Linked DNA regions of Homo sapiens: region 1 is linked to region 2. Evidence: fine-mapped expression QTL. A gene starts in region 2. The other region holds a variant in brackets. All regions are shown on one strand. Distances are between the middles of the regions. Region 1 has its middle 7.1 kb from the start of LINC00428. Region 2 holds the start of FAM216B (family with sequence similarity 216 member B).

Region 1 (5,385 bases), 99 kb after region 2:
TATCAAATGAGATGCTGATTATGCAGACTTCCCCTAATGTACTCTGCTGTCATGTATATTTCTTTGATCAAATATCTTCCACTTCCTAGAATACCAGCTCCACTCCTCCCCTAAAGCAATGAGCTATTTTCAAAACCATTCATCTTTCAAGATTCAGCTCAAACATCAAGTCCTCAACTGCCCCAGGATAACTTACCTCTCTCTCCTTTAAACTCCCACTGTTCTTTACACAGCTCATCACACTCGATTGTTTACACATGGCTTACTGCACTTACCACCCCCCCCCCGCCCCGCCTTCTAATGTGCTGCCTGCATGATTTCCTTAGATATTATTCTTACTGTTCAGTGTCTATCTGTCCTAGAATATGAGCTCATGAGGGCAGCTTCTGTCTTATTTAATGCTATATCTCTGGTGCCTGGAAGAGTGCCTGGCACATAGTGAGCACTCCTGGGAAAATATAATTAAAAACGAAATGTCCTCCTAACCCAGAAAAGCTTTCTACAAAGGTAAAAGGAAAACTATTTTATTATTAAATAAGCATTAAACCAGAAAGTGATGCACATTACAGGCAATCTGCTAAAGAAATGGCAAAGACCAGAAAGAACTCTCACTCTTTTATAGCTAAGGGGATACAACCCATTACCATTAGTTAGGCTTTGCAATTTGGAGTCAGACAACAACTGAAGTTACACCCCTCTCCTCTTAGGAAACCGGAAGCTAAAGCCTTAGCTTCCTTGATGATTACATCAAGGAAGAGAGGACGTCCAGGTCCTTGAAGAAACACTCCAGATTGTGAGGTAGCCCAGAGGCTTATTTAGCCACTAAAAAGATTCACATACATAGAAAAGGACAGGGAAAACTTTTTTTTTTTTTTTTTTTGAGACAGTCTCGCTCTGCCGCCCAGGCTGGAGGTGCAGTGGTGCAATCGCCGGCTCACTGTAAGTTCCGCCTCCTGGGTTCACGCCATTCTCCTGCCTCAGCCTCCCCAGTAGCTGGGACTACAGGCGCCCACCACCACTCCCAGCTAATTTTTTTTATTTTTTAGTAGAGATGGGGTTTCACCATGTTAGCCAGGATGGTCTCGATCTCCTGACCTCGTGATCCGCCGGCCTTGGCCTCCCAAAGTGCTGGGATTACAGGCGTGAGCCACCGCGCCCGGCCAGGGAAAACATTCTGAAAGAGAAAAAAGGAGTGGAGAAATTTCTTCCCTTATTTTCGACAGGAAGATTTAAGCTCCTCATCTTACATTTTTACTTGCTCTTTCTGCACTTAATCACCACATGTTGAAAAAGTAAAAACTAAAAGATGGTTTTCCCTGTAATTAACTATAAACACCTAAGGGCAAGAGCTATGTGTTATTTTCCTACACAACACCAATATAGTGTGCACTCAACAAATGTTTGTGGAAAGAGGAAGGAAGGAAGGAAAAGAAAGAGAAACAGGAAAGAGAGAAGGAGAAAGAGAGGAAGGAAGGAAGGAAAAAAAGAAAAGGAGAAAGATGATTTTGACAACTGTAAAACAATCTCCACATTAAGGACTAAGCATTAAGGGAAGAGAATCAAATAACAGACAGATAAGCTGGGCCTATCATAATAGTTATTGACTCTTCATAAACCATCTCTACATGTACATTTAGTTATGCATTGGGTAATGGTTAAAATAGATACCTAGGGTGCTTTCCAAAACTGGATTCTACAGTTCCTAGGTCACGGACTTGGCTTGTCTCCAGTTGGCCTGCTTTTATAACCACCCAGTGGGTTTTTCTTGTCCACTGCCCAGATAGAGCTAATTTATGAAGGCAGGGGAATTGCAATAGAGAAAGAATTTTACACACATAGAGCCAGCTAAACAGGACACAGGAATTTATTATTACTCAAATTGGTCTCCTCAAAAATTCGAAGGCTAGGGTTTTTCAAGGATAAAGAGACGGGGGCACAGCTAGGCAATGGGTGCTTGCTGCTGATTGGTGGGGGTACAATCATAAAAGTGTGGGAAATGGTCCTCATGCACTGAGTCACTTCTGGGTGGGGTCACAGGAGCAACTAGTGGGTCCAGGTGGAGCCATCAGTGTCAGACATACAAAAAACTTGAAAAGACATCTCAAAAGCCAATCTTAGGTTCTAAAATAGTGATGTTGTCTGCAGGAGTAATTGGGAAGTAGCATATCTTGTGACCTCCGGAATAATGGCTGGCCATCGTTTATGCCTACACCTTAGCAGAATTCAGGCTCCTATCCTCCTACTAGTCTGGTGGTTTCTCATTAGCTTTGCAAAGGTGGTTAAGCTTGCGAGGAGGGTATTATCATTTATTTTTATTTCTTTATTTTTTATGTATTTATTTTTTTTGAGACAGTCTCCATCTGTCGCCCAGGCTGGAGTGCAGTGGCGTGATTTTGGCTCACTGCAACCTCTGCCTTCCGGGTTCACGCCATTCTCCTGCCTCAGCCTCCTGAGTAGCTGGGACTACAGGCGCCCAGCACCACGCCCGGCTAATTTTTGGTATTTTTAGTAGAGTCAGCGTTTCACCGTGTTAGCCAGGATGGTCTCCATCTCCTGACCTCGGGATCCGCCCACCTCGTCCTCCCAAAGTGCTGGGATTACAGGCGTGAGCCACCGTGCCCGGCAATTTAACCTATAAACTAAATGTCTCCCAAAGCTAGGTAGACCCAAGCCAAGGGATAATTAAGGGCAGTTTGAAGGCTAAAGGCAAGATGGGGGTTGGTTAAATCAGATCTCTTTCACTGCCATAATTTTCTCACTGTTACAATTTTTGCAAGGGAGGTTTCACTTTTCTCTCCTCCTCCACCTCCAAAGCTCCCTCCTCTTAAGTAGGGAGAATTCATTCGCACGTTTTTCAGAGCTCTGCACTGTAATTCATTCAGATCCAGACATTTCGGCTCATTTACAGCGGATGCATGCTCTCGCATAATCTCTACACCCATCTTGGGCTTCAATTTTCTCTTAACAATGTTCGTTCTACCCTTTTCAGTCCAAAGATCACTCTCCTTGACAGAGAAGACAGGACTAAATGGGAGGAAAGGAGTTCTGTTTTCTTCATGTCATCCATCAACATCACACCACTGGCCTCAGGCAGCGAGCCTCTTCCTTCCTTATTCTTGCTCTAAATTTAAGAGCCCTCC[A/G]TTATCCTTACTTTCTTTTCTCTAAGCCTCAGCTCACTCTGGTCTTTGGCCCTTCTGATCTGTTACTGGTCCCTGCCTTTCTTCAACACAATCTTTGGCAGCGTGCCTCTTTCCACTTTTTGGCACATCTTTTTAAAATCCGAGTTTCTCAGTGGGAGTGTGCAGCCACCTTGGCTCCGAATGTCTTTTCCTTTTGTCTGCAGCATGAACAACATGTGTGATTGCAAAGATAGAATTATAATTTTGAAAGCTTACCAATTCTTTTGAGTTTCCTCTTGAGAAATAGAATTAAAACAATCTTTTCTTGAATTCATTAAAACCTGCCTTCTCCAATTGTTGAGTACCTGTCTTAGCATTCCAAGCCTCCTCCCTGCTTGGCTAGCACAAACCTTAAAACGACACACGCACTTCCTCAAAAGATTCCTTTATACCATAGAAGTGAAGTGCAGGAGGCAAAAAGATCCAATGGTTTTTTCTGACAATAGTCTCTGTAAAACATCACAAGAAACCAATTAAAGAGGATGGTAGTGAGCCTGAAATAAAAGGGAAAGTTGCTAAAGATATTGTGGTGGTAGAATTGATAATCCCTGCCAATGAATTATGCAGGGATAATTATGAGAAGGAAGGAAGACTGTTGAGGCCTGTAAGTATACATGGCCAGGTGATCTAGAAAATGGTGATAAGGTAGGAAGAAAGAAGGACCAACATTTTTAGTAATAAAGAAAGGAGTTGAGAAAGTATCTTTTCATTTAAAACTAATATAGTATTTCCCTTGCTACTCTCCTACCTTGCATTCCCATTTACCTTTTAAGAGCATTTATCCCATCAGTTTGTCTACAACCTATCCTGTGAGGTAAGGTGGAGATAAGAGATTTGTCCAAGGTTTCAACATTAGTGAATGGCAGAGCTACATTCTCATATCTTCCAGAAATCCCGTGGTTCCCCTTTCTTTTCCAAAATGCTATGGCTCATGGCATTGCTAACCATCTGCAGGGATTAAAGGACAGGCATTGCCTGTAAAGGGGCAAAGCCAGCCCTTTGGTTTGCATCAGCAGCTGCTGTTGGCGGGGTTTAGGTTTATTCATAACTGATTAGCTTAATATGATATCCTTATCCCAAGAATCTTTCTATCCTTGATTATCACACCTGGGGTTGGCCAATTAACTGGGACAAATTCCAAAACATTGAGAGAAGCTCTCTTCCAGGGTGTTTCTCCTCTCCTATATCTTGTCTCCCACTTCCAAGCAACAACCACACTAGTCTCTCTCTCTCTCTCTCTCTCCCTCTCCCTCTCTCTGTGTGTGTGTGTGTGTGTGTGTGTGTGTGTGTGTGTTCCGAGGTGAGCAGGCCTATACAAACCTACTTCCAAAGGCCAGGGAAGGTGAGGAGCTGAAGAAAGAAGCTGACAAGTCCAGATTCTCAGAATGAAATAATAGGGATTTATGAACAGAAGCCATATCTCAAGCAGCTGCGAATGGTGGATCCCTACAGTACACTGTTACCCCACAGACCCAGGGCTTACAAATCATAGGGAATTTGCCTAAGGGGAAGATATATGTGTTTACGATAACATCAAGGTTGTTTTGACCTAAGGGCAGGAATTATTCGTAATTATACACTCTTAACAGTAGATAAAATAGAAATTTTAGAGGCATTTTCGGAACTGGGGTTAATCAGAAGTCAACATGGCCAATTAGTATACAAGATGGAGTTACTCTAGCCTGAACATTCTTCTTCCTCAATGTCCCCCAAACACGTGCTTACCACCATCACTGCACCACTGTGGCTGCTTTAAATGTCCCTGCACTCAATCCTTCACCAGCCACCACCATACTTATTTCTTTCCATCTGTAAAAATTTTCCTCTTTTATCAAATCCATTCATTTACCAAATACTCATTGAATCACTACTATGTGCTAGGCACTGTTCAAGGAACTGGGAATACAGCATTGAACAAAACAATGTCCCCGAGCTCATGGAATTTTATTCTATAGTCTTTGAAACTCTTTATTGACCACATCAAATCTCCCTTCCTCTGAAATACTATAAATTTTGTATATATGGCCACATCACCATCAATGTATTTACACAGGCTAGAAATATGAAACTCATCTTTGATTCATCAGTCTCCATCTATATCTAGTCATTTACAAAGTCCTGACTTTATAAAATACGTCTACATTTACTATAACTACAATGTAATTTTTCTGAAGATACTTTCTGAAAGACAACTGAATCTCCAAAT
Region 2 (5,385 bases):
AAGGACATGAACAGACACTTCTCAAAAGAAGACATTTATGCAGCCAAAAAACACATGAAAAAATGCTCATCATCACTGGCCATCAGAGAAATGCAAATCTTTTGATATCTTATCTCTTTCTTCTATAGATTTTATTTGAGATTATAGGGTTGAAACTAAATCTCTGGATATTCCCTTCTCAAGTCCACTTTAGACTTTTTTCCCGAATTGTTTGAAATCTGTTTTTCCAAAGTCTTAGCACGTATCTGACCACATCCAGTTTTTCTTTTGCCGATAATCACTGCTTCTAAGTGTCCCAAGTAGTTTTCACTCACTAAAAGTGGTTCTTATAATCCAAACTAAGACTGACTCTAAATATCCCTATTTTTGTGACCAGTGGCTCCTATAGGTTTGGTGTATATGACAGCTTTTGTTTTGGAATCTCAGAAAAGTAGGGGTTTTCTATGAAGAGGTCAAAGAAAAAACAAGATAATTAGGAATAACTAACTCCTCTTCCCCCACCAAAAAATTTGAGCTCAAGGGACTACATAGCTCAATGGGAAATGAAATTCAACCAAGACTCTAGAAGACTAAGTAGAGTCCAGGGGATAAACAGCAGTAGAGTGGGGAGAGGGACACTGCCTTCTCTTCCTTAAGGAGCATGGAGGTCCTCTGAGGGCTTGGATAGTCAAGCAGCATGTCTGTGCCTGGCAGAGACAACCTCACAGACATCTCTGCAGCTAAGAGGATCCTGGCAAAAGGATGTGAGCAGAGCATTTCCTTCCGGGTTCATAGTTTTTCGGGAAAGTGTGTACCTCCATGATGTACAGTGGCACTCTCCCTCTAGCAGGTGGGTTTCTTTGAATTAGAGTTTAACTTCATCTTGGATTCCAATCAGGAGTCCCTCTTCCTCACTTGGTATCACTCATGAGGTCACATTTACCCTGATATTCCATGAAAACACTTTATCACCCACCTTCTAAACAGCCAATGTCTTAAGCAGTGAGTCTCATTGCTGTACCAATATTTTAACTGTGAAATAGTACAACTTTTCTACTAATAGTTGACATTGTATTCCCTATAGTAATTAGATTATGGGTGTTTCTTTCCCATTTTTTTTGTAATCAGTTTAAATCCTTTTTGAAATGTTAAACTAGTCTTTGGGAAAACATTTTTTGTCCCAAACTTAGGATATGCATTACTCCCTCATTCTTATATTTTAAAATATGTCTACAAATTTAGATCTCATTCTTTGATACCATCTACATAGCTAGTTTTATCTTATTTCCTCTTTTCTTATAAATTGACAACTTTCAGTGATGTTAGGTAAACATTGACTGTATGTCTAAGTCCTTCATCCTCCTGCCTGACTTCATAGGTCCCAAAGGTACCTCTTAGATTTGTGTTTGTGTTAGAGAGTGTCCACCATCTGTCGGCCTCATGTTGATTCTTCTATACCCTTCTGTTTATCAGAGTAGTAGGAAGACTGCAAAATACATTTCCCAAAATCCCTTGCTAGCTGGCATCCAATGGAGGGCAGGACATGAATGAAGGCTGGAGGGAAGAAGCCATTTTTTAAAAATACTTTCTGCTTGCACCTGTGGCAGTGCCAGCAGCAGCAGCCACATGGACAGCAACAGTGGTGACAGCAACAGCAAGATTAGCAGTTTGGGCAAGAACATAGAAGCAAGGGTGCCTGGTGAGCACAGGTTCCTGAGGCGCTGCTCAGGCAGCAGTTCTCCAAAGGAAGCAGCCTCTATGGCACAGTGTCCATGGGCTGTGGGTAAAATCATTTTCCCTATTGTCCTCCAGCTCTATGTGCAATCACAGTTTAGTGCAATTGCCAGTCCTTGGATAACCTAACCCTTCTTGTTTTACTCCTCTAACCCATTTCTATATTTTCATAACAGATTCCTTACATTAAATGCCCTCTGTCAAACACAGATCTGTTACTGTTCTCCTGATTGAGTAGCGTCCAAGGCAAGCTGGTAGGAATTTCAGCATGTGTGTGCAACATCAGCAGATGCAGTGCACCCAGAATGAATTTCATCATATCCTGGAAAAACGTTTGAGGAAGACTCGATTGACAATGTCAACTCTGCACACCACTGTTCTTTATCTCTTGGTAAAGAATCATCAACCTCTCAGATCCAGTGAAAGATTTTATGTTATTTACTGGCATTTAAAGACACTTGTTTGTGCTGTGCTTATTTCCCAGGAGGTCTGCATTCAAATTACTGGGGAAAAAATGCAAGACTTTTGCATCTGTTGAGCCCTTTCTTCTTTAAGGCATATGATTCATCACTCTCATCTCCCTGCTTTTTTCTTCCCCTTAGTCTCCTAAGAATTTTGAATGTATTTTCTTTTGATATTTCTTCTTCCCTTTTCTTTAGGAACTCTTCATCTTTGCAGATAAGCTGGCATTCAGAAGGAGGACACTTGAGAAAGAAAGGAAGCCAGTAGAATAATGCTATCACAGAAGAAAGGATGAGGTCAGTGTGGGCTCTAGTCTTACGCCACAGGTTAATTATCATCATATGTAGCCTCTAATTAAGATAAAATATGGAGAATATCTTATTCCCCCACAAAATGAAAGGGAACTTAGCTTAAACTATGGAATAATTTCATAGGTTACCACAGGCAAATTCATGCCCATACCTCTATATTCAGGAACTCTTCCTTCATCATCCTGAGCAATGAGGAAGGGGACTACTGACTCCAAATTTTGGAAATATTTATGTCATGGCCCATTGCCCTGATGGATTTGTTGACCTTTAATATTTAGAATCTCTGCCTCTATGCATGTTACCCCCGATATCTGCATGTAACACAGATATGGTAGATTTAGAAGATGACACTTGATTAGACACAAAATGTGGAAGAAAAAATATCAAACTGTGTAGCTGAATGTTACCCAGAAGTGAAGAAAGGCATGCAGCCAGATTTCCCCAGCTCTTTGTTTCATCACATGATGTTGCTTGGATATCAGCTTATCAACAGACTTCCACCACCACCACCAGCATATAAACAGAGTCCGCGTAAGAAAACTACACTGAATAGGAATGGCAGCTTTTAAAAGTGGGGGAACTACAGTATAGGGTAAGTTCTTTTTAGGCAAATCTGTCTTTTTGTTTCAGATATATTATTTTGTAGATGTTTCTCTCCCTGAATTCCATGAGTATTTTAATCAAATTTTATCAGGTATAGGCCACTTGAATAGGTAAGATAAATTTATTCAGCAGTAGCCCCAGAAAAGCACACATGAATTGTTGCCATAAGAAAGAGCATCAGTCATTTCTTTATGCTATTTGAGGAGAGAAGAAATCTTTCCAGCTTGAAGCATATTTATTCTCTGTTCTACAGATCTGGAAAATGGGAGGAGGGATATTGAAATGATTTGAGTACAGGATAGAGCGTAGGTGTCAATCACAGAGAATATTACAGGAGTATATCTTGGTTGGTATGGTTTCTGGAGTGCACATTAAAGGAAAGCAGTACTGACTAAAATATTTACAGTTTAATTTAGACATTTATATAGCAGAAACAGTACACACAGAGATGTTGACTAATGTTTTCCTAATAAATTTCTCTTCTGGAAGAATGGAACCTTCGATGTGTGAACTCAAATCAGTCTCCACATGTATTACAATACTCCTTAAGCATGTGTATGTTTATGAACCTATGAGTGTGCATGTGTTTGTGTGCATGAACATGCGTGAAGGTCGGGTAGAGAGAGAAGAAACTGGCATAAAGTGAGAGCATTCTATATTCACGATTTCAGTGAATCAAACACCCAGTGAGGTAGGCATTGTAACTGCTGTCTTAAGGATGAGAGGGCTGAGGCTTACAGAAGGAAAGAAACTCAAGTCTTTCTAGTTCTAAAGGCCATACAGCCTCTATTACAGTTTATTTTCTTCAGTTAATATACGTGCAGGTATTAATAATAATCTACGTTTAGCAGATTGTTACTATGTTTGATTTGCTGTGGTCTTACTTTCTATCATTCAGTAATTCACACTGCTAACAAAGACAAAGGAGTAAGCAGAGGGGAAAATACTCTGGGTTTGCACTTTGTGATTTGGCAACCTATTCCAATATGTCTATTCTTGCTGGATTGTTAAATTCATATTATTATACACACTTCAGACTCTAAACCCTAAATCACCAGGAAAGGAGACTTAATCATAGCAAATGTGACTCTATTATTCTGTATCTTTCTCAGGCAAGTGGAAACATGACAAGTTTAATAGTTTTATAGTACAATGCTATAAAATTGCACATCTAAATTGCAAGAAGTGGAGAATGACGTAAAGGCATACTACACTGCCACTAAAAATCATATTTTTAAGGAATATTTAATGATCTGAGAAAGTGCACAAAATGTATAAATTATGATCTCCCTTTTCTAAAATTACACACAATGTACACAGAAAAAAAAAATAAATAAATAAAAGGAAAGTGAAGCTCAGCATGGTGCCTCATACCTGTAATCCCAGCACTTTGGGAGCCTGAGGTGCAGGATAACTTGAGCCCAGGAGTTTGAGACCAGCCCAGGGAACATAGGGAGATCTTATCTCTACTAACAATTTAAAAAATAATTGGGTGTGGGGTGTGTACCTGTAGTCCCAGCTACTCAGGAGGCTGAGGTGGGAGGATGGCTTGAGCCCAGGAGTTCAAGACTGCGGTGAGCTATAGTCGCACCACTGTGCTCCAGCCTGGATGATAGAGTGAGACTCTGTCTCAAAAAAACATATAAATAAATAAACAAATAAAAGGAAATCAACCAAATGCTAACAATAATTATGGATAGTTAGATGCAAGTTGAGTATGCCTTATCCAAAATGCTTGGGACCAGAAGTGTTTTGAATTCCAGATTTTTTTTTTTTGATTCTGGAAAATTTACATTATCTTTGCCAGTTGAGCCTCCCAAATTCAAAAATCCAAAATCCAATATGCTCCAATGAACATATCCTTTAAGCATCTTGTGGGCACTAAAAAAGTTTTGGATTTGGAGCTTTTCAGATTTTGGGCTTTTAGATTTGGGATGCTCAACTTGTATGAGTAATCTTATTTTCTTCTTCAATTTTTAAATTTTTCCAAATCTTCCAAAACAATATATATTACTTTTAGAATCAGATATGAAAATCAATATTATTTAAAATTATCAAAAAATTACTACTATAAAAATAGTATGCTCTACAACACACCTGTTCCAAACAGTTAGAAAGACAAGGGCTCTGAATTATTCCTTAACTTCACAAATAATTAATAATTATTTTTATATATAAAGGGTGAGAATAGGAAAATGTGTGGAATTAAGTAGTCTGGTGATGTCCAATTACTTGGAAATGTGAGCAAATGTTCTTATCCCTTAGAACAAATTACATTTTTAAAAATTCATTTACT

Evidence for each region.
Region 1: its variant is fine-mapped to the expression of FAM216B in monocytes after R848 (Quach 2016, PIP 0.95).

What each region holds. Positions count from the first base shown.
Region 1 is chr13:42,877,172-42,882,556 of GRCh38, forward strand. No RefSeq gene overlaps it. Among named protein-coding and RNA genes, the nearest start is that of LINC00428, 7.1 kb to the left of the region's middle. The variant A/G (reference allele first, on the strand shown) is at 3,141.
Region 2 is chr13:42,778,587-42,783,971 of GRCh38, forward strand. It overlaps FAM216B (family with sequence similarity 216 member B), which reads left to right and starts at 2,998. Exons shown (of 4, transcript NM_001318932.2): 1 at 2,998-3,078.